Linked DNA regions of Homo sapiens: region 1 is linked to region 2. The links come from fine-mapping of genetic effects on gene expression. A gene starts in region 2. The other region holds a variant in brackets. All regions are shown on one strand. Distances are between the middles of the regions.

Evidence for each region.
Region 1: its variant is fine-mapped to the expression of YIPF2 in whole blood (TOPMed, PIP 0.95).

The regions. Positions count from the first base shown.
Region 1 is chr19:10,901,001-10,916,336 of GRCh38, forward strand. It overlaps CARM1 (coactivator associated arginine methyltransferase 1), which reads left to right. Exons shown (of 16, transcript NM_199141.2): 2 at 3,951-4,076; 3 at 7,039-7,145; 4 at 8,103-8,207; 5 at 11,184-11,294; 6 at 12,877-13,054. Among named protein-coding and RNA genes, the nearest start is that of YIPF2, 20 kb to the right of the region's middle. RefSeq lists a silencer at 4,026-4,213. The variant G/A (reference allele first, on the strand shown) is at 6,727.
Region 2 is chr19:10,923,621-10,931,888 of GRCh38, forward strand. It overlaps YIPF2 (Yip1 domain family member 2), which reads right to left and starts at 5,019. Exons shown (of 10, transcript NM_001321439.2): 1 at 4,891-5,019; 2 at 4,760-4,820; 3 at 4,179-4,339; 4 at 4,010-4,096; 5 at 2,066-2,153; 6 at 456-572; 7 at 213-379; 8 at 1-57. The coding sequence starts at 4,790. TIMM29 (translocase of inner mitochondrial membrane 29) reads left to right here and starts at 5,191. Exons shown (of 2, transcript NM_138358.4): 1 at 5,191-5,296; 2 at 5,394-6,634. The coding sequence starts at 5,203. The coding sequence ends at 6,082. RefSeq lists enhancers at 3,650-4,352, 4,353-5,053 and silencers at 5,267-5,546, 5,587-5,636.

The sequences.
Region 1 (15,336 bases), 19 kb before region 2:
AAGCGGAGTCTCACTCTGTTGCCCAAGCTAAAGTGCAGTGGCGCTATCTCAGCTCACTGCAACCTCCACCTCCCTGATTCAAGCAATTCTCCCTGTCTCAGCTTCCTGAGTAGCTGGGACTACAGGCACCCACCATCATGTCTGGCTAATTTTTGTGTTTTTAGTAGAGACGGCATTTTGCCATGTTGACCAGGCTGGTCTTGAACTCCTGACCTCAGGTGATCTGCCTGCCTCGGCCTCCCAAAGTGCTGGGATTACAGGCATGAGCCACTGCACTTGGCCAGCTTTTTGTTTGTTTGTTTGTTTTTGTTTTTGTTTTTTTAAAGAGGTGGAGTCTTGCTATGTTGCCCAGGCTGGAGTGCAGTGGCTGTTCACAGGCAGTCATAGCTAACTGCAACCTTGAGCTCCCGGGCTCAAGCAATCCTTCCACCTCAGCCTCCCGAGTAGCTGGGATCTCAGGCATGCACCACCATGCCCGGCTAATTTTGTTTATTTTTTTGTAGCGATAGAGATGGGGTCTTACTATGTTGCCCAGGCTGACCTTGAACTCCTGGCCTCAAGTTATCCTCCCATCTTGGCCTCCCAAAGTGCTGGGATTACAGGCATGAGCCTGTGCCTGGCCCTGGCTATCTCTTTGTTGTTGAGTTAAAAAAGTTCTTGGCCCAGCCCAGTGGCTCATGCCTGTAATCCCAGCACTTTGAGATGCCGAGGCGGACAGATCACACGAGGCTAGGACTTCAAAACCAGCCTGGCCAACATGACAAAACCCCGTCTCTACCAAAAATACAGAAATTACTGGGTGTGATGATGCATGTCTGTAATCCCAGCTACTCAGGAGGCTGAGGCATAAGAATCGCTTGAACGCAGCTACTCAGGAGGCAGAGGTTGCAGTGAGCCAAGATAGTGCTGCTGCACTCCAGCCTGGGCAACAGATCAAGAATCTGTCTCAAGAAAATATATAGGCCGGGCACAGTGGCTCACCTCTGTAATCCCAGCACTTTGGGACGCCGAGGCAGACAGAGCGCTTGAGCTCAGGAGCTCAAGACCAGCCTGACCAACATGGTGAAACTCCATCTCTACGAAAACTACAAAAATAAGCTGGACGTGGTGGTGCACACCTGTAGTCCCCCAGCTACTCGGGAGGCTGAGGCAGGAGAATCCCTAGAATCTGGGAGGCAGAGGTCACAGCAAGCCAAAATTGTGCCACTGCATTCCAGGCTGGGTGATGGAGTGAGACTCCATCTCAAAAAATAAATATAATAAAAATAGATACAAAATAATTGTTGTTTCTTTTTTTTTTTTTTTTTTTTTGAGACGGAGTCTTACTCTGTTGCCCAGGCTGGAGTACAGTGGTGTGATCTTGGCTCACTGCAAGCTCCACCTCCCGGGTTCACACCATTCTCCTGCCTCAGCCTCCTGAGTAGCTGGGACTATAGGCACTTGCCACTATGCCCAGCTAATTTTGTTTTGTTTTGTTTTGTTGTATTTTTAGTAGACACAGGGTTTCACTGTGTTAGCCAGCATGGTCTTGATCTCCTGACCTCGTGATCCACCCATCTTGCCCTCCCAAAGTGCTGGGATTACAGGCGTGAGCCACTGTGCCCAGACTTTTTTTTTTTTTTTTTGAGACATGCTCTTATTCTTGTCACCCAGGCTAGAGTGCAGCGTTGCCATCTCTGCTCACTGCAGTGTCAACTTCCTGGGCTCAGGTGATTCTCCCACCTCAGCCTCCCAAGTAATTGGGACTACAGGCGCATGCCACTACACCGACTAATATTTTTATATTTTTAGTAGAGACGGGATTTCACCATGTTGCCCAGGCTGGTCTCAAACTCCTGGGTTCTAGTAATCTGCCTGACTCCCAAAGTACTGGGATTACAGGTGTCAGCCACCATGCCTGACCCTAAAATAGTTTTTTATATATTCTGGACACTAAATACTTAACAATAGATGATTTGCAAATAGTTCTCCTAAGAGTTTTCTTGTTTTAGCTCTTATATTTAGGTCATTGCTCCATTTGAGTTCTGTTTTGTTTGTATATGGTGTGAGGTAGGGGTTTAACTTCATTCTTTTCTCTGTGGTTATCCAGTTTTCTCAACAGTGTTTGTTGAAGACACTATTCTTTCCCCATTGAATGTTCTTGGCATCCTTATCAAAAATCAATTGAGGATAAGTATAAGGGTTTATTTCTGGACTCTGATTCTGTTCCATTGATCTGTGTCTCCTTTCTTTTGCCAGTACCACTACACTGTTTTCATTACTGTACCTTCGTAGTAAAATTTGAAATTGAGACATGGGAATCCTCCAACTTCATTCTTTTTCAAGACTGTTTTGGCTATTCAGGGTGATTGAGAACACTTTGCCATATTTGCACTCATGTTGTTGTTGTTATGATGGGCTATTCAAAAGCAAGCTACTGACATCATGGGAATTTGCCATAAATACTTCCGCATATGTTTTCTAAGAAAATATGCATTTCTCTACAAAACCACAATACCATTGTCACATCCAAATAACTTAAAATTATGGAATATGTAGTCCACACTCACATTTCCCTAGTTGTCTTTTTTTTTTTTTTTAATAGGATCTCACGTCTGTTGCCTAGACTAGAGTGCAGTGGCACCATCATACCTCACTACAGCCTCAACCTCCTGGGCTCAAGCGATCCTCCCACCTCAGCCTCCCAAGTAGCTAGGACCACAGGTGTGAGCCACTCTGTCCAGCTCCCCAGTTGTCCTTTATTTATTTTTTTGAGACAAGGTCTTGCTCTGTCACCCAGGCTGGAATGCAGTGGCACAGTCATGACTCACTGTAGCCTCAGCCTCCTGAGTCCCTAAGACAACAGGCGCATGCCACCATGCCTGCCTAATTTTTAAATTTTTTTGTAGAGATGGGGTCTTGCTATGCTGCCCAGGCTGATCTCCAGCTCCTGGGTTCAAGTGATCCTCCTGCCTTGGCCTCCCAAAGTGCTGGGATTAGAGGTGTGGGCCCAGCCTCCCCAGTTGTCCTGTATAACTTTTAAAAACATTTTTCGTTTGGCTCCAGCCCAGGGTCCCACTTTGCATTGCATTGGGCACTCCCCTCTTTCTTGTCTCCTGCACTCTGGAATAGCTCCCACCGTTTTGGTCTTTCCTGACATTGGCCTGTTCAAGGAGACCAGGCTGGTTGTCCTGTAGCCTGCCCCACAACTTGTCCTTTTCTGTTGTCCCTTGAAGATGAGACTAGGGCAAACATTTTTGCCAAGAATACTACAGATGATGCACCTGTCCCACTGCAGTATGGCAGGCAGGGGCACAGTGCCTGATTGGGCTGGCCCGTTCCTGGCATCGCTAAGTTTCACCATTTGGCTGGAGTGGAGTGGCTGCAGGTTTGTGGAATGAATGACTGGTAACAGCTATCATGATGGGTACAGGGAGACAGTGTCCTAATTCACTAGACCACTGCCCCGCCATTAGCCCCATCTGATGGTGAGAACCCCAGTTCCAGAGAGGCTGAGGGACATGCCTGTGTCACAGTGAACAAATGGCATGGATGGGGTGTGAACCCAGCGGTCTGACTCCACTGGCCACATGCAGTCACTGCTCTGCGCCCATCCAAGAACAGAAGGGCTCAGCCGAGCAGGGCAGAGGCAGCTCCAGCTCTGAGTTCCTGTGGGCCAGCACCATGCCTTGTGGCCCTGTCTGCCCACCTCAGCCTTCACCATGCCCGTCTCAGCCCTGATCATCCTGAGGACACAGGCTGTGTTCCTGCTGTCTGATCAGTCGCTCCCTTGTCTTCCATGTGGGCTGGGCAGTCAGGGCACCCGGCAATGCTGCCAGGGTGGTTTTGTGGCACTCTGGAAGAATCTGGGGGCACCAAGGGGAGGCAGCAGGAGGGCGACAGGGACCCAGGCTCAAAAGAAGGCAGCTGACAGGGCTGCACCGCTCACGCCAGCCTGTCTTCTCTCGTAGATGAAGATGTGTGTGTCTTTAAGTGCTCAGTGTCCCGAGAGACAGAGTGCAGCCGTGTGGGCAAGCAGTCCTTCATCATCACCCTGGGCTGCAACAGCGTCCTCATCCAGTTCGCCACACCCAACGGTACGTGGCCCTCCTTCCATTCCGGTGACACCAGCCCAAAGCGCCCAGAGCCCTGGTGGGCAGGGGCGTAGAGCCTGGCTGAGGGGTGGCCCGTGCATCCTTAAGAAGGCTCCACTGCCCTCAAAACCACATTCCCACATGCAGGTATGCCCAGAATACACTCTGGCCTGGGCAGACCCTGGATCCCAGACCCTCCCTCACCGGCTCCTCCGGGTCTTTTGGGGCTTGGCTTCTATGTCCCCACCTCCAAGAGGCCCATCCTGACCACCTGGGACCAGTCTTTCTGGCAGTGGCCAGCCCTGGGCCAGCTGTGACTGGGCCAGCTGTGGATGGAGTGAGGCGAGGTCCTAGAGGCAGGAAGAGTTTGCTCAGGGCGCAGAGAAGCCACCAGAAGGGCTTAACCAACCCACCTTGGGGGCACAGGTGGACACAAGATTCCTGACTAGGGGTGGGAGAACCCCAGGTGGATGCAGCCAGGGTAGCAGAGAGGTGTCCAGGAATGCCCAGGGCTGGAGATGGTCTGAAGGTCCCACCGCAGGCTTGGTTACCAGAGACCTGAAGTGAGTCCAGTGGTTGACACAGGTGCTGGTGCGAGGACAGCTGGAGGTGGAGAGGCTGCGTGCCCATGAGCCACTGCCGGCCTCCCCCTTGTCTCAAGGTAGCTGTGCAGTGACCCAGATGTACCTTGGGCAGCCTGAGCCCTCGGGGCCAGCTGTGTGAAGCTGCCATGCCTGGCTAATTTTTTGTAGAGATGGGTTTTCACTGTGTTGCCCAGGCTGGTCTTGAACTCCTGGCCTCAAGTGAGCCACCTGCCTCAGCCTCCCAAAGTGCTGGGATTACAGATGTGAGCCACCGTGCCCGGCCCCTTTTTTTTTTTTTTTTTTTTTTTTGAGAAAGAGTGTCACTCTGTTGCCCAGGCTGGAGTTCAGTGGTGCTATCTTAGCTCACTGCAACCTCCACCTCCCGGGTTCAAGGCGATTCTTATGCCTCAGCCTCCCGCGTAGCTGGGACTACACGTGTGTGCCACCGTGCCTGGCTAATTTTTGTGTTTTTAATATAGTAGACATGGAGTTTTTCATATTGCCCAGGCTGGTCTCAAACTCCTGGCCTCAAGTGATCCACCCGCCTCAGCCTCCCAACGTGCTGGGATTACAGGCATGAGCCACTGCACCCGGCCGTTCCCACTCTTAAGACTATTTGTATTTTAATATTTTTTATTTCAGTTCTGTCAGTTTTTAAAAGTTGTGCTAAAATCTACATAACAAAATGTGATCATTTTAACCCTTTTGAAGTGTGTAGGTTGGTAGCAAGCAGCACATTAACATTGTTGTGCAACTGTCACTACCGCCCATCTCCAGAACTTGCTCATCCCGAACTGTGTCTTTTCATTGTTTTTGAGACGGAGTCTCGCTCTGTCACCCAGGCTGGAGTGCTGGAGTGCAGTGGCGCGATCTCGGCTCACCGCAACCTCCATCTCCCAGGTTCAAGCGATTCTCCTGCCTCAGCGCCCTGAGTAGCCGGGATTACAGGCACGTGCCACTGTACCCAGATAATTTTTTGTATTTTTAGTAGAGACGGGGGTTTCACCATGTTGGCCAGGCTGGTCTTGAACTCCTGACCTCAGGTAATCCGCCTGCCTCCGCCTCCCAAAGTGCTAGGATTACATGCGTGAGCAACCATGCCTGACCGTGTCTTTTAATTTTTAAAGAGATTGTCTTTTAAATATTGTTTTGTTTTTTACTTGATATAATTTAGTGGCTATTATTCTATGTTAATAAATATAGCTTTATTTTATTTTATTTTATTTTATTTTATTTTATTTTATTTTATTTTATTTTATTTTATTTTGAGACAGAGTCTCACTCTGTTGCCCAGGCTGGAGTGCAGTCACACAATCTTGGCTCACTGCAACCTCCACCTCCCGGGTTCAAGTGATTCTCCCACCTCAGCCTCCTGAGTAGCTGGGATTACAGGTGCCCGCCACCACCCCTGGCTAATTTCTGTATTTTTAATAGAGACAGGGTTTCACCATGTTGGCCAGGCTGGTCTCGAACTCCTGACCTCAAGTGATCCACTCGCCTCAGCCTCCCAAAGTGCTAGGATTACAGGCATAAGCCACCGTGCCCGGCTTATTATTTCTTGTAGAGACAGGGTCTTGCTATGTTGCCCAGGCTGGCCTCTTAAACTGGGCTCAAGCAGTCCACCCGCCTCAGCCTCCCAATGTGCTGGGATTACAGTTGAGAACCACTGTCCCCAGCCAAATAGATAGAGCCTGCTTTAAAGGGCCACATACCATTGCATCTCTGGGAAGGGTGGTGATTGGTGATTCTCTGCCATGCTTTTCTTAATTTTTTATTTCATGTTTTTGTTTTTGTTTTTTAACGAGGCAGGGTCTTGTTATGTTGCTCAGGCTGGTCTGGAACTCCTGACAGCTGATCTGCCCACCTCAGCCTCCCACCTCAGCCTCCCAAAGTGCTGGGATTACAGGCATGAGCCACTGCACCTGGCCTCTACTGTGCTTTTCTGTGCCCCTGGCATTTGTCCAGTCCCCTCTTACTGGACATTGCAGTGTCTGCTGCCCCCACACAGATGCTGCCCTGAGCTTCTGGGTGGACTTGGGCTTATTTGCCAGAGCTTTGACTCCTGGGCC[G/A]GTGGGCGTGTGCTTGAGAGAGCTTCACCAAGCTGCCCTTTGGTGAGGAATCCCCAGGCCCACTCCCACCAGACAGCAGCCCCACATGCAGGCTACCTGCCCTCTTCTCATGTCAGTCACCACAGTGCAGGCATGGCTGCCCTTCATCTTTTCTTTGAACTTTGAAAATTGTTTTTCGGGGAAGAGAAATCACCAGCCCTGTATGTTCAAGGGAGAAACGTCAGGACATACGGCCATCCAGAACCTTCCCTCCCAGATGGCCACATGCTGGGTTGCTGACCGCCCCCCGGTGACTTGGCTTCCCTGTTCCAGATTTCTGTTCCTTCTACAACATCCTGAAAACCTGCCGGGGCCACACCCTGGAGCGGTCTGTGTTCAGCGAGCGGACGGAGGAGTCTTCTGCCGTGCAGTACTTCCAGGTGGGTTGTACTCCCCCTCAGCCAGGCCGCCTCCCCCCGGCAGCCCCCCTGCCACTCACCCGCAGGAGGCCACACAGCACAGGGAAGGCCCACCCAAGTTCCCGTCCTGGCTCTGTCCCTTACTGGCCATGTAGCCTTGGGCAGGTTTCCTCTGCTGGCTGGGCCTCAGTTTCCTCATCTGTGAAGCGGAGATGCAGGTGCCTGCCTGAGAGGGTTGCTGGAAGGATCTGAGCACAGGTGGAGCTCAGGGCCACAGGCGTTGTGAATAACGGTAGAGCAGTTACAATGCCCTGAGCGCTCCCTGCATGCCAGGCCCTGGTCTAAGCGCTGTCACATGCACAGAAGCACTTGGACCCTCCCAACAACGCTAGGAGGTAAGTGCTATTATTGTCCCCATTTTACAGATGAGAAAACTGAGGCTCAGAGAGGTTAAGTGACTTGCTCCAAGTCACACAGCTATATGCAACAGAGCCAAGATGGGAAGCCAGGTCTGCCTGATGCCAAAGTCTGTGCCCCTGCCCAGGTGCCACGCTGCCTCCCGATCGCCCGTTGTCTTACAGAGAGACACCACACCTCACCTGCCTGGCGCTCTGAGTTCTAGGGCTCTGTTCGATCTGCTTCTCTTCTTCTTTGGGGCCCTCAAGATGAGGCAGGTGGCCCCCGATGCCAGAACCCTGCCTGTGGCAAATCTTGAGTTCTCCTGGGCGGCTTCCAGGTCCAGGCGGCATCAGCTGTTGCCATCGGCTGCAGTGATAGTGGCGGTGTCCTCCTGGGGGCTGCCCTCCGGCTTCCTGCTCCCTCTCCTGGAGCTGCTAGTGGGGCCCAGGCAGAGGGTGCACGACCTCCCGAGGGAGGTTTGTGCCCTAGATGGCCCCTTGCTCTATCACAGGGCTGGCCAGGGCCTTGGCTGCCTCGTGCCACCATGTGCCCCGTGCCATCGGTATGTCTCTGTTCCAGTTTTATGGCTACCTGTCCCAGCAGCAGAACATGATGCAGGACTACGTGCGGACAGGCACCTACCAGCGCGCCATCCTGCAAAACCACACCGACTTCAAGGACAAGGTGAGTGGCCCGCGCATGTGCCCACCTCTCTGCTTCTGTCTCGGTTTTTTTTTTCTTTGCTCATTGATTTTATCTTTAATTTTCTCAGATTAGAAATGCATTTATCTCAGTTACTGCAGAGGCTGAGGCAGGAGGATCGCTTCAGTCCATGAGTTTGAGGCTGCAGTAAGCTATGATTCTGCCACTGCACTCCAGCCTGGGCGACAGAGCGAGACTCTTGTCTCTTAAAAAAAAACAAATAAACAAGGCCAGGCGCGGTGGCTCACGCCTGTAATCCCAGCACTTTGGGACGCCCAGGCGGGCGGGTCACAAGGTCAGGAGATCGAGACCATCCTGGCTAACACGATGAAACCCCGTCTCTACTAAAAAATACAAAAAAATTAGTTGGGCGTGGTGGTGGGCGCCTGTAGTCCCAGCTACTCAGGAGGCTGAGGCAGGTGAATGGCATGAACGCAGGAGGCAGAGCTTGCAGTGAGCTGAGATCGCGCCACTGCACTGCAGCCTGGGCAACAGAGTGAGACTCCATCTCAAAAAACAAACAAACAAACAAAAAAAACAAAAAGCAAGAAAAACAAATGCATTTGATATATAAACTCAACACAGCATGTACATTATAGGCTTGAGAGGCCTCTATCAGTTCCCTCCAAGATAGCCGCTACCCCTCAGTATGAGGTCTCTTCTTCAAGATTTTTCCCCATACAGACATCAGCGTATATTTTACAATTATTTTATTGAGCTGGGCAGAGTAGCTCACACCTGTCTGTAATCCCAGCACTTTGGGAGGCCAAGGCAGGGGGATCATTTGAGCCCAGGAAGTTGAAACTGCGGTGAGCTGTGATTGGGGTACTGCTCTCCAGGCTGAGCCAAAGTGCGAGACCCTGCCTCAAAAACAAAATAAATAAGCTTTTTGATATCACCAAATAATGTGCACTCATGATTAAAGAGAGAGAGAACAGAGCAGAACGTCTGTATTCAAAAGTAGAAATCGGCCAGGCACAGTGGCTCACACCTGTAATCCCAGCACTTTGGGAGGCTGAGGCAGGTGGATCACTTGAGGTTAGCAGTTCGAGACCACCCTGGCCAACATGGCAAAAGCCCATTTCTACTAAAATAAAATACAAAAATTAGCTGGGCGTGGTGGCAGGCACCTGTAGTCCCAGCTACTCAGGAGGCTGAGGCAGGAGAATCACTTGAACCTGGGAGGCGGAGGTTGCAGTGAGCCGAGATTGTGCCACTGCACTCCAGCCTGGGCAAGAGAGCAAGACTCCGTCTTAAAAAAAAAAAGTAGAAATGTATAATGTATTCCCTTCTCATCCCATTTGCCAGAGTTTTTGGTGTCTACCTTTTTTATTTTTTTATTTTTACTTTTTTTTTTATGAGATGGAGTCTTGCTTTGTTACCAGGCTGGAGTGCAGTGACACAATCTCGGCTCACTGCAACCTCCGCCTCCCGGGTTCAAGCAATTCTCCTGCCTCAGCCTCCTGAGTAGCTGGGACTACAGGCGCACACCACCAAGCCCAGCAGATTTTTGTATTTTTGGTAGAGACAGGGTTTCACCATGTTGGCCAGGATGGTCTAGATCTCTTGACCTCATGATCCACCCACCTCAGCCTCCCAAAGTGCTTGGATTACAGGCATGAGCCACTGCACCCGGCTTACTCAGAATTTTTGTTTTCTCTTTCTGTTTTTGGGGGGTTTTTTGAGACAGATTCTCACTCTGTCACCCAGGCTGGAATGCAGTGGCACAATCTCAGCTCACTGCAGCCTCTGCCTCCTGGGTTCAAGCGATTTTTGTGCCTCAGCCGGCCAAGTAGCTGGGATTACAGTCATGTGCCACCATGCCCGGCTAATTTTTGTATTTTTAGTAGAGATGGGGTTCTGCCATGTTGCCCAGGCTGGTCTCAAACTTCTGGCCTCAAGCAGTTCATCCGCCTCAGCCTCCCAAAGTGCTGAGATTACAGGTGTGAGCCGCCGCACCTGGCCTGTTTTCTCTTTTGAATCAAATGGGAGCCTGTTTTTTTCCTCCAAGTATTTTGGGGATCTCTCCACGTGGATCTGCATGGATCTGCCTCATCCAGCGCCTGGGTCACGCCCCCCTAGCATCGCTTACCGTCCCAGAGGATGGTAGGCCTTGGGCCCTGGGGAGGAGTTGTCTTGACACAAGAGTGTCTGCCCTGGCAGGGCCATCCCGAGCCTCCTCCTGGCCACTGAGGTCTGGGAAGGACGTCCTCCGTTGGTGAAGTCCCTTCCTGCTCCCCAAGGATGGAGATCCATTTCCTGGTTCATCTGGAGCTCTGATCAGTACCCTGAGGCCTTCCCACCTGACCCCAGCTTCCCCTGCAGGCACTCACCATGCCCAGAGCATTTGTCCTTCAAAAGCTCATGCCTGTCACCACCAGGAATGTCTGTCCTTGGTCTGCTCGTGTGGAAGCAATCCCACAAATCCAGAACAGGTGGTGTGTTCTCCCAGACCCTGGCCTGGACTCTGCCATGAGTGACCACCACGGGCCAGTAGCCCTGCGGGGAGCCCAGCCGGCCCCAGGGCTTGGGCGGCTCACCTGCCCCAGCCAAGACGGGCTGCTTCTCCAGGCATGAGTCAGCATGGAGCTGGGAGACACTGCCACCAACAACTCGGGCCCCTTTCCTCCATGCTAGAACTGCGGAGGCCCCGGAAAAATGCTTTTCAACTGCCAGTGAGCTTCCAGGGGAGGCCCGTGCCACTCACCCCAGACGATCCGGAGGCCTGCAGGCCACAGGGTTGGGGCCGAGCGGGAGCTTCCCCAGGGCTTCTCCTCCCGGAGGACTGGCCCATGGCTCATCTTGAGTTCTCGCTTCATTTTGACCAAGAGCCCATAAAGGGCAAACATTGAGAGTGAAGACAGACGCCTCATGATGTGCACATCCCTTATGATCACTGTCACCTCCCCATCACCGTCGCCTCCTATGTCTCGCTCTCACCTCCCACTCCTCCCTCAGATCGTTCTTGATGTTGGCTGTGGCTCTGGGATCCTGTCGTTTTTTGCCGCCCAAGCTGGAGCACGGAAAATCTACGCGGTGGAGGCCAGCACCATGGCCCAGCACGCTGAGGTCAGTGGCCCGCTGGTGCCCACCCAGCCTCGTCCTCGCCCATGAGTGCCATGCCGGCCCCAGCCTAGAGAAGCTTGGGAACCCCCAGGGGCCTGGGGACATTACTTCTGTGCTTTGGTCTCTTTATTGTCCCCAAGACAGTCATTTCAGGGAGGGGCTTCAGGGCCTGAGATGATTTTCTCTCATGGCCGGTAGTCAGGGCCACATGTCATTTCCCTGTTTTCTTTTTTTTTTTTTTGCACTGAAACCTTCATTCACAAAGTTCAAAACATAAAAGCTAAAAAAGAGCAGACAGCGTGCTCTCCTTCCCCACCCCAGCTCCCACCCCCAGCCCCATCATGAGAGAGGAGCTACGGCCACAAAGTCTGAGCAGAGCTATTCCGTGAGCGTCCTCTCGCACCAGTGGAGGCTGCACCCTCCATTCCCTGCTCTGCCTCTCCCATGGATCTGGGGTCGCCGGGGTCGTGGAGGGGCCATCTTTGTTCTGTCTTGCCGCCGCAGAGCACCCCTGTGCCCAGCCGTGCCGCTGTTGCTTTAGCTGCATTGTGTCCGCAGCGACACTCAGACTCCTTCCAGGTCTTCACGTGGCCAACGCTGCTGTCCTGAGCCCCTCTCCCACATGCGGTTGTGTCTGTAGGACACACCCTAGCCCTGGAATCGCTGGGTTGGGGGTGCATCCAGCTTTAGCTTTGGTGGCTGTTGTGATGTCTGCTCGTCCCCCTCTTTGCAGCCACCAGCAGTTGTCGACGCAGGGTGGGGGACCTAGGAGGCCGCAGCAGGGGACGGCCCTGAGGCAGGGCCGGGGTCACAGTGAACTCTCTTTTTTTTTGGGGGGGGTCTCACTCTGTTGCTCAGGCTTGAGTGCAGTGGTGCGATCCTGGCTCATTGCAACCTCCACCTCCCGGGTTCAAGTGATTCTCCTGTCTCAGGCTCCTGAATAGCTGGGATCCACCACTGCAACTGGCTAATTTTTGTATTTTTAGGCCAGGCATGGTGGCTCACACCTGTAATCCCAGCACTTTGGGAGGCTTAGGTGGGCGGATCACCTGAGGTCAAGAGTTCGAGACCAGCCTGACCAACGTGGCAAAACCCCATTAGCCAGGCGTGGTGGTGGGTGCCTGTAGTCCCAGCTACTCGGGAGGCTGAGGTGGGAGAATCGCTAGAACCCGGGAGGCAGAGGTTGCAGTGAGCCGAGATGGCGCCACTACCACCTCCAGCCTGGGCAACAGAGTGAGAATCTGTCTCAAAGAAAAAAAAAATAGTTTTTTTTTTTTGGTATTTTTAGTAGAGACAGGGTTTCTCCATGTTGGTCAGGCTAGTCTCCCAACTTATGAGGTCAAGCAGTCCGCCTGCCTCGGCCTCCCAAAGTGCTGGGATTACAGGCATGAGGCACCGTGCCCGGCCCACAGTGAGCTCTTAACAGGCTATGGCCAATCGCAGCCATGGTTGGGGCGCCAGCGAAGCAGGCAGAGGGGCACCCAATGCCCATGTGTGGATGGAGGCTGTCCCTTGAGAGCAGGTCTAGGGAGGGCCCCATGGCAGGAAGACGCAGGGAAGCCCACATGGCCCTGCCCGCCTGCAGGTCTTGGTGAAGAGTAACAACCTGACGGACCGCATCGTGGTCATCCCGGGCAAGGTGGAGGAGGTGTCACTCCCCGAGCAGGTGGACATCATCATCTCGGAGCCCATGGGCTACATGCTCTTCAACGAGCGCATGCTGGAGAGCTACCTCCACGCCAAGAAGTACCTGAAGCCCAGCGGTGAGCACTGGGGGGTACACAGGCCAGGCCCCTCGGTGGAGGCCCTGGCTGCCGCTGAGCCAGGCCATCAGTGCTTCAGCTCCCTGCTTACTGTCGGTGGCCCGGGGTGTAGGGAAGCCTGGGCTTTTCCCCCGCTCCCACCCCAACCCCACTCCAGCCAGCTGTGGCTTTTGGAGCCCTGGGCCCCAAACACGGCCAGACACCCAGCTGCCCACTCGCCCAGACAGGGTACACAGGATCTCCTGGCACCTCTGCCGTCCCATGTCCTGCTCCTGCGGGACAGCCTCTGGCTGGGAGTGGGGATTGGGACAGGTTCTGTGGTCAGCAGTTCCCCAACAAGCCCTGCTCTCCTCACAGTCCAGGAGGTGGGGTGGGCGAGCATGTGTGCAAATGCAGGGGTGTGGGTGCGAGTGTACGTGTGTGAGGAGGTGAGGTAGCTGTCTGGCAAGCCCATCTGTCACTTCCCATCCGTGCCTCTGGGTATGGCCTCTGGTCACTGGGTGACTGTTTCTTTTTTTGAGACAGAGTTTCACTCTTGTTGCCAAGGCTGGAGTGCAGTGGTGCGATCTCGGCTCACTGCAACCTGCACCTCCCCAGTTCAAGCAATTTTTGTGCTTCAGCCTCCTGAGTAGCTGGGATTACAGGTGTGCACCACCACGCCCAGCTAAGTTTTGTATTTTTAGTAGAGATGGGGTTTCACCGTGTTGGTCAGGCTGGTCACGAACTCCTGACCTCAGGTGATCTACCCGCCTCAGCCTCCCAAAGTGTTGGGATTATAGGCATGAGCCACTGTGCCTGGCCTGGGTGACTGTTTCTATTTGCCCATCTGTCTTGGGGTCTGTGCAGCCCTGACGCCTGAGGCATGTGCCTGTGGCTCTTCTCATGCTAGGTATGTGAGCGTCTGAGCATTTCTGTACAGGCAAGCAGCTGTGTGTGCGTGTGGCAGGGTACAGGTCCCCAGCCAGGGTAGCAGCCATGGGATGGAGCGTGGGCAGCAGCAGGCTGGTGGGGCTTGTGCAGGCAGGGGCAGGGGGGAAGCTTCCACTCTCATCTCTGGCCCGCCCTGGATCCAGGCCCTAGGGTCCTGGCTGGCTGTGCTCCTGGAGGTGGGAGGTGGCGTCCCACAGCTGTGTCTCATGTCTTGGGTGTGAGTATGGGAAGCAAGGCTGCTCCAGGGGCTGTGGGCCCCACTCTCCTCCCCTTCTGCCCTGATGGTGGGGATGGGGGTGGGGACAGCCCCAGCAGAGAGGGCCCCTCCCGATGGGACATGAAGCCAGATGGCAGTCAGGCTCTGTGGGCAGCTGCATGTGCCCCCGACGTCCCAGCAGCCAGCTTGCAGGGAGGGGGGAGGCCAGGCCTGTGCAAGGAGGACTCCTGTCCAGCTCAGGAAGCTCTTCCAGGGGTTAAAGGCAGCCCTCCCCTCTCCCAGTCACATGTCTTCTGGTCAGCAGGAGCCAGAGGTTCCTTCCAGGCTGGGTCACTTCCCATGGTGCCCCCAGGTCCCCCAGGGCAGAAGCCGCAGCATGTGCATCTCCCTCCCCGTTCCAGCAGCTGCAGCCCTGCAGCTCTCGCCTCGGGTACAGCCTGGTGGCGTAAGGAGGAGGCAGAGTCCCACTGATACCTCAGGATCTCCTCCCCCAGCTTGCAAGGCTGGGGGGCCCACATCTGGAGGCCAGGTGCTCCTTGGGGCAGGCGGGGCTGCGGGGCCCTGATCCTCCCTGCCACTGGCCCTGACTCATGCGTCTACCCTTGAGTCACAGAGGGAGGCCCTGCCCTTCCCTCAGTCTGTGTGCCCAGACCAGGCAGGCCAAGTGGCCCATCCTGCCGGCTGGGTGCCTGTGCCAGAACCTAGGCAGTCCCTGTGGTGTGGATTTGGCTTCCCCCACCTGGCTCTTGGCCTCAACTGAGGTCCCCAGCGGCGTTGGGGTAGCCCGGGGCCCACCACCCTCCCTCTGTCCAGAGCAACTTTGCTATGCTTTCCCGGCTGCACACATGCACAGACGGCAGGGCCTGAGAGGCAGCGCCTGGCCACATCCCGGGCACTGCCTGCTTCCCCGTGAGTCTTTGGCAGGTCCCTCACACCTGCCAGGTCTAGTAATAGGACATAAAGATGAGCCACCAGCCTCCCAGTCTCAGGTGGAATTCGTGAGCTGGTGCAGGTCAGGTACCCGTGGTGGTGATGAAACACTGATCAGAATAGGCGCTCGGTGCCACTGTCACAGGAGTGCAGGAACGAATGGATGACAGGCTGGGAGCACCCAGGGTTGGGGGTCTTGGGGTCC
Region 2 (8,268 bases):
CAGGGCCAGCGCCCCAAAGAGCCACTGCAGCCAAGGCACAGGGATGAGCCACAGGACCTGGGAGCAACACGGCGGCAGGTGACCATGCCAGTCCCCCCAGCCACCACCCACTCTGCACCAGGCCACCCTCACCACCATGGGAATGAGGCGGCAGGTGACCATGCCAGTGTCCCCACACAGCCACCACCCACTCCGCGCCAGGCCACACTCACCACCATGGGGATGAAGACAAAGAGGGAGTAGCCGTAGATGCACACAGTCTCCAGGAAGGTGTAGGGCCCCATGCGCTCCTGGACACCCTTGCGCCACCGCAGGAAGCCCCACAGGGCCAGGGGCACCAGCCACGCATAGCAGTAGATGCTGATGCCTGCCACGGTCACTGGGGGGGGCAAGGTGAGCAGTCACCCCCTGTACCCCAGGGCCCTGCCAGGCATTGGGCCTGCCCGTCTGCTTACCCTTGTGGAACTGGGGGCTGTAGTGGATGGAGGGGTCCCTCCTCTGGGCCAGCACCAGCGTCAGGTTGCCAGTGACGGCCAGGACAAAGGCCAACGTGGCACAGATCCAGAAGGGGCCTGGGGGTAGGGGGCACAGTCAGGGTCCCGGGCCCTGCACTCCCAGGACAAGCAGACATGTATCCTGACTGAGCTGTGCTGAGACCCCAGCCTCTTCCTAAGCACCTTGCCTGACTCACCAGGACACCGGGGGCCTCCTGGTGGCTGAGCCCAGTGCTGGCTGTCAGTTCATCCCCCTCCCCGAAACACTCAGGACTGCACACCCTTGGCCTGTGTCTCACCTCATTGGTGCCAATTCCTCAACCCCTGTCACCTCCTCTTTGACTCTCTGACCCCTTCAGCCATGGGGAGCAGCCAGGCCCAGTTCTTGGCCCCTTCCATGTCTGCGTTCACCCATAGTATGACCTCCTTCAAGCCCAGGGCCTTATGCCTCCTCTAGAGCCCAGGGCTCTGCCCTGAGCACTGCAGGCTCCAGTTCAAGCTCCCGGGTGGGCATCTCCGGCTTCATCCACACCCTTGCCCTCTGCCCTCACTGCCAAGCTGGTCCCGTGGATACGTGGCAACTCTATCCATCCCGTTAGTCCAGGCAGAAATCCCTAGAGCCTGCCTCCGCTCCTAACCTCCCACTCCCCCCACCCCCACCTATCTAGCCACAAAGCCAGTCTCTTCTACTTCCCCAGCACGTTCCAGAATCCAGTGCCACTCTCCACATCCACAGTCCCCACCATGTGGCCGCCTCCACCCCAGCCTCCTGGCTTCCGCCCTCGCCACTCATGATGGCGAGAGGGACCCCGAAAACACTTAAAGATCCATTCTCGGCCAGATAACAGTGACTCACACCTGTAATTCCAGCACTTAGGAGGCCGAGGCGGGTGGATCACCTGAGGTCAGGAGTTTGAGACCAGCCTGGCTAACACGGTGAAACTCCGTCCCTAATAAAAATATAAAAATCAGCCGGGCATGGTGGCACGTGCCTGTAATCCCAGCCACTCAGGAGGCTGAAGCAGGAGAATCGCTTGAATGCGGGAGGGGAAGATTGCAGTGAGCTGAGATCACATCACTGCACTCCAGCCTGGGTGACAGAGTGAGACTCTGTCTCAAAAAAAAAAAAAAAAGATCTCTTCTTGCCACAGCATGGGAGGCTTGTGTGATCTGTCCCCTCGCCTGTGACCTCCCTGCAGCTCACTCGCTCCAGTGGTAATGCCGCCCTGCAGTTCATGCAAGTTCCTGCCATGAAGCTTACGTCGTTTCTGGAAGCCTCTTTTCCTAGGTCTCCCCCACCCCTCCTGTTGCCAACAAGGCTCATTCCCTCACCCTCCTCAGGGAGGCCTGCCCTGCTGCACCCTGCAGAACTGCAGGGCCACTCCTCCTGTCTGCTCTGCTGCTCTCTACCCGCCACCCTCTGCAGTCCTTCATGTCTCTGTCTCCCTGAACAGCAGGTAAGTCACACTGTCTGAGTGACTGATTTGTCCGCAGCTATACACTGGCATCTGCAACTCAGGCCACACTTGTTGAGTGATCCATCAAGGAACCAAATGCACAACCTCACTCACCATACAGATCCGGCCGATTCCGCAGATGGTGCCGCACAAAGTTGTGGCCAGGCCGGGGCAGCAGTGAGCCTTTGATCCGGTCCAGGACCTGGGGGCAAGGCCAAGGTCAAGGATGGAAGTCTGCCAGGAGCTTCTCCCTTGTCCTGAGAGGCTCCTTCCCTGCTGACCTCCACCCTTCTCTTTCCATGCCCCACCTGAAAGAACTCAGCCTTTCCCTCTCTTTTTTTTTTTTTTTTTTTTTGAGACAGAGTCTTGCTCTGTCGGCCAGGCTGGATGGAGTAGTGGCATGATCTCGGCTCACTGCAACCTCTGCCTCCCGAGCTCAAGCAATTCTCCTACCTCAGCCACCCGAGTAGCTGGGATTACAGGCGTGTGCCACCACGCCTGGCTAATAGTTGTATTTTTAATAGAGACGGGATTTCACCATGTTGGCCAGGCTGGTCTCGAACTCCTGACCTCAGGTAATCCACCCACCTCGGCCTCCCAAAGTACTGGGATTACAGGCGTGAGCCACCGTTCCCAGCCCCCTCTTTTTTTTCCCTCTTTTTTTTTTTGTTTTGAGACGGAGTCTCGCTCTGTCACCCAGGCTGGAGTGCAGTGGTGCCATCTCGGCTCACTGCAAGCTCCGCCTCCTGGGTTCACACCATTCTCCTGCCTCAGCCTCCCAAAGAGCAGGGACTACAGGCGCCCACCACCACCCCCGGCTAATTTTTTGTATTTTTAGTAGAGATGGGGTTTCACCGTGTTAGCCAGGATGGTCTCGATCTCCTGACCTCATGATCCTCCCACCTTGGCCTCCCAAAGTGCTGGGATTACAGGCGTGAGCCACCGCACCCGGCCTCAGCACCCCCTTTTTCTTTTTGAGACAGAGTCTCACTCTGTTCAGGCTGGAGTGCAGTGGCACGATCTTGGCTCACTACCACCTCCGCCTCCCAGGTTCAAGTGATTCTCGAGCCTCAGACTCCTGAGTAGCTGGGACTACAGGTGTGTGCCACCATGCCTGGCTAATTTTTGTATTTTTAGTAGAGATGGGGTTTCACCGCGTTGGCCAGGCTGGTCTCCAACTCCTGACCTCAAGTGATCCACCGCCTCGGCATCCCAAAGTGCTAGGATTACAGGCGCCGACCACTGCACTTGGCTAATTTTTCTATTTTATTTTATTTTTTATTTAATTTTATTTTATTTATCTTATTTTATTTTTGAGACAGAGTCTCATTCTTTTTGCCCAGGCTGGAGTGCACTGGCACGATCTTGGCTCACTGCAACCTCCGCCTGGCGGATTCAAGCGATTCTCCTGCCTCAGCCTCCAGAGTAGCTGGGATTACAGGCGCCCACCACAAAGCCCGGCTAATTTTGTTGTATTTTTAGTAGAGACGGGGTTTCACCATGTTTGGCCAGGCTGGTCTCAAACTCCTGACCTCAGGTGATCCACCCACCCAGGCCTCTCAAAGTGCTGGGATTACAGGCATGAGCCACCCCGCACCCGGCAGTTTTTGTATTTTTGGTAGAGACGGGGTTTCCCCATGTTAGCCAGGCTGGTCTTGAACTCCTCAGGTTATCTGCCCACCTCGGCCCCCTTAAGTGCTGGGATTACAGGCAGGAGCCACTGCGCCCAGTCCATCTTTGGTCTTCTGCATATGCTGTTCCCTGTGCCTGGAACATATACTCCTGCTTCCCTACCCTATTCCCCAGGGAAGCCTTCTGTCTCCTTTAGGTCTCAGCCAATTCCTCACCTCCCCCAGGAGGCCTTTCTCTAACCCACCAGATTGTGTGTGTCCCCTGTGTTCCCATAGTCCCGATCCATAACCAGTCCCACCATAACCCTTTGAGAGCACCACAGTTCGTTCACCAGCACCCACCATCACCAGCACCCTGCCCAGGGGAAGAGTGGCTGAACCCTGAGCATAACTCTGAGCCCCATCCCACCTGCCTCCCCAGCCTGACCTGTGAGGTGTCCACGTCAAAGAAGCTCTGATAGTAGCTGAAGGTCCAGAATCCCGGCTGCTGCTGCTGCTGCTGCTCCTGCAGGAGCTGCACATTGCGGGCATTCAGTGCCTGCCCGGAGAGCCTGGGTCAGCTGGGGGCTGCAAGGAGGCAGGACACAGGGACTCACCGCGGCCTTGTCACTCTCCTCCTCCACCTCATCCTCGGCTCCATAGCTGCCACCTGAGCCCACGGCCACAGCCACGTGCCCTTGTGGGGTCAGCTGATCGCTTCTGCTGGTGGTGGCTGCATCTGGGGTGTCAGCCAGAAGATTAGTGGCCTCCTCGAATTCTGTGGAGGAGGTATATGGGACACACGCACGTTTGAGGGGTGGAAAGAACTCGACTGGGCCCAAGCTAAACCGATGCTCATCTGGGGGCGGAGGCTCTGCTGAGCCATTGATCTCCCCCAAGGTGGGGCCCAACTTCCTCAGTTTGGAGGCATCCGGAGGACATCTGTTCCCTTCCTCCTAAAGTGGAACTGCAACTTAGGGTTGACGCTGGGATGGGGTCAGGGTCTGGGGACGAGAGGCTCGGGTTTGAGGTCTGAGTTCAGGGCGGGGGCGGGGTTCGAGTCAGAGATGGGTCTCACTCCTGGGTCAGGGTTCACAGCCGCCTAGGCTTCGGGGTAGAGAAATTGGAAGCCGTATCGGGGGGAGGTTCTGGCCCGGGGCGGGAGTGGGAGATCCGGCCACGTCGGGGCCGCACTCACCATGGAAGGTCAGCTCGTCGGCCGATGCCATGGTCGTTCAGGGGCGTCTCCGCATCCCTCGCTGAGGACAGAGACCGGTCAGGCACACTTCCCCCCCGCCCCCGAGCCGGTCCCTCGGCCCCCAGCCCTACCTGGCGACCAACTGCACCCACGGAGGCTTGAACTCGTCGTCCCGTCCCCACAGGTGCGCTCCGCCCCCCCTCACCTGAGGCCACCTGGGCCGGCGTGGCTGGGGCTCTCTGCGCCTGCGCGTCTCGCCTACCCGTCAGACTCCAACCGACTCAGACCTGACAGCAACATCCGGCGCCTGTCCTCTTTCTATCCTCTCCCGTTGGGAAGCCACTTCCGGTAAAGTTGGCGCTTGCGCAGAAGAGACTCCCGGGCTCTTAACGTCGGGTATCAGGAGTTTCTTCCCGGAGCAAGGACCCCCAAGACGGAAGAGGATGGCCGCGGCGGCTCTGAGGAGATTTTGGTCCCGGCGCCGCGCAGAGGCGGGCGACGCGGTAGTGGCGAAGCCGGGAGTGTGGGCGCGGCTGGGTGAGTAGCGGCGGAAGGCGGCAGGGTGGGTGGCCGCCGCGACAGGGTGGGTGGCCGCCGCGGCCGGATCACTCTTACCGCGCTCCTCTCCCCTCAGGGTCCTGGGCCCGCGCGCTGCTCCGGGACTACGCCGAGGCCTGCAGGGACGCTTCGGCGGAGGCTAGGGCCCGGCCGGGGCGCGCCGCTGTGTATGTGGGTCTGCTGGGCGGCGCGGCGGCCTGCTTCACGCTGGCGCCCAGCGAGGGTGCCTTCGAGGAGGCGCTGCTGGAGGCGTCGGGGACCCTCCTGCTGCTGGCGCCGGCCACCCGCAACCGCGAGTCCGAAGCCTTCGTGCAGAGGCTGCTCTGGCTGCGGGGCCGTGGCCGCCTGCGCTACGTCAACCTGGGGCTCTGCTCGCTGGTGTACGAGGCGCCCTTCGACGCCCAGGCCAGCCTCTACCAGGCGCGTTGCCGCTACCTGCAGCCCCGCTGGACCGACTTCCCCGGCCGGGTCCTGGACGTGGGCTTCGTGGGTCGCTGGTGGGTGCTGGGGGCCTGGATGCGCGACTGCGACATCAACGACGACGAATTCCTGCACCTGCCGGCGCATTTGCGGGTGGTCGGGCCCCAGCAGCTGCATTCCGAGACCAACGAGCGGCTCTTCGATGAGAAGTACAAGCCTGTCGTGCTCACCGACGATCAGGTGGACCAGGCGCTGTGGGAGGAGCAGGTCTTGCAGAAGGAGAAGAAGGACAGGCTCGCCCTGAGCCAGGCCCACTCGCTGGTGCAGGCGGAGGCCCCGAGATGAAACCCTGAGGCCCCCGAGTCCTGGCAAACTGCTTGCCTGGGGTGGTGCAGTTCTGAGTGTGCCTCACCTGCAGAACAGCTGAGACAGATGATGTGCAAAGTGTTTTCTCACTGGATTTGCACAAGTTTGGGGAGCCTTTCTGCCCCCCGTCTTTGTTCTTTATTAGCTGAAGCTAATTCAGAGCCACCTGGGTCCGGGAGTTGGGGACAGCAGAACGACTTGACACATGTTCATCACTGGCAGAGCTGGTCATGAGCCTTTTATATAAGCCTTTTTCATCGGGCCTCAGAGGCCCTCCTTAAGGAGGTACCACATTGGTCAGCTGACTTGCAAACTCTTCTAAGGCCACTTAGATTTTCTTTTTCAAGTTTGGGTTGTGGCCTGGCATGGTGATGTCTGTAATCCCAGCAGTTTGCAAACTGAGGCAAGAGAATCGCTTGAGGCCAGGAGTTTGAGGCCAGCTAGAGTGACATAGCAAGACTCCGATGCTACAAAAAAGAATAATAATAGTAATTAACTAAATAAAATTTGAGCTGAAATGTTTTTATTCTATGACCTATTCTCTCTCGTTTTTTTTTTTTTTTTTTTTGAGACAGGGTCTTGCTCTGTTTTGCCTGCTGGAGTGCAGTGGTGCAATCTCGGCTCACTGCAACCTCTGCCTCCCAGGTTCAAGTGATTCTCCTGCCTCAGCCTCCTCAGTAGCTGGGATTACAGGCCTGTGCCAACATGCCTGGCAAATTGTTGTATTTTTAATAGAGATGGGGTTTCACCATATTGGCCAGGCTGGTCTTGAACTCCTGACCTCAGGTGATCCACCTGCCTCGCATTTCCAAAGTGCTGGGATTATAGGAGTGAACCACCACACCTGGCCTTTCATTTTGATAAGTAACATTTTTGCCATTCCCAGCTCTTTGGAAGGCTGAGGTAGGAGGATTGCTTGAGATCAGGAGTTCAAGACCAGTTTAGGTAAAATAGTGAGAGCTTTCTCAAAAACTAAAATATTTGGAAGGGTAAAGCAGGCAAATCATTTGAGCTTAGGAGTTCAACACCAGCCTGGGCAATATGGCAAAACCCCGTCTCTACAAAAAGTACAAAAATTTACCAAAGGTGTTGAATGAGAATTGAAAATATGTATACATAGAAAAATTAGCCAGACATGTTGGACCATGTCTGTAGTCCCAGCTATTCAGGAAGGCTGAGATGGGAGGATCACCTGAGCCTGGGAGTTCAACGCTGCAGTGAGCCACGATCGTGCCACTGCACTCCATCTTGGACAACAGAGTGAGACTGTCTCAAAAAGTAAAATAAGTGGATGGGCCCGGTGGCTCAAGCCTGTAATCCCAGCACTTTGGGAGGCCGAGGCAGGTGGATCACGACGTCAGGAGATGGAGACCATCCTAGCTAACACGGTGAAACCCCATCTCTACTAAAAATTCAAAAAAATTGGCCGGGCGCGGTGGCTCACGCCTGTAATCCCAGCACTTTGGGAGGCCCAGTCAGGTGGATCACGAGGTCAGGAGATCGAGACCATCCTGGCTAACATGGTGAAACCCCGTCTCTACTAAAAATACAAAAAATTACCGGGGCGTGGTGGCGGGCACCTATAGTCCCAGCTACTCAGGAGGCTGAGGCAGGAGAATGGCATGAACCTGGGAGGCGGAGCTTGCAGTGAGCCGAGATTGCGCCACTGCACTCCAGCCTGGGCGACAGAACAAGACTCCGTCTCAAAAAAAAAAAAAAAAAAAAAATAGCTGGGCGTGGTGGCAGGCATCTGTAGTCCCAGCTACTCAGGAGGCTGAGGCAGGAGAATAGCGTGAACCCGGGAGGTGGAGCTTGCAGCAAGCAGAGATTGCACCACTGCACTCCAGCCTGGGCAACATAGTGAGACTCCAGCTCAAAAAAATAAATAAATAAGTAACATTTTTGTTTTGATTTTTTTAAGTTTTTTTTTGAGACAGAGTTTCGCTCTTGTTGCCCAGGCTGGAGTGCAGTGGCACTCGCCCCAACCACCGCCTCCTGGGTTCAAGCGTTTCTCCTGTCTCAGCCTCCCAAGTAGCTGGGATTACAGGCGCATGCCACCACGCCCGGCTAATTTTTGTATTTTTTAGTAGAGATGAGATTTCATCATGTTGGTCAGGCTGGCCTCAAACTCCTGACCTCAGGTGATCCGCCTGCCTCAGCCTCCC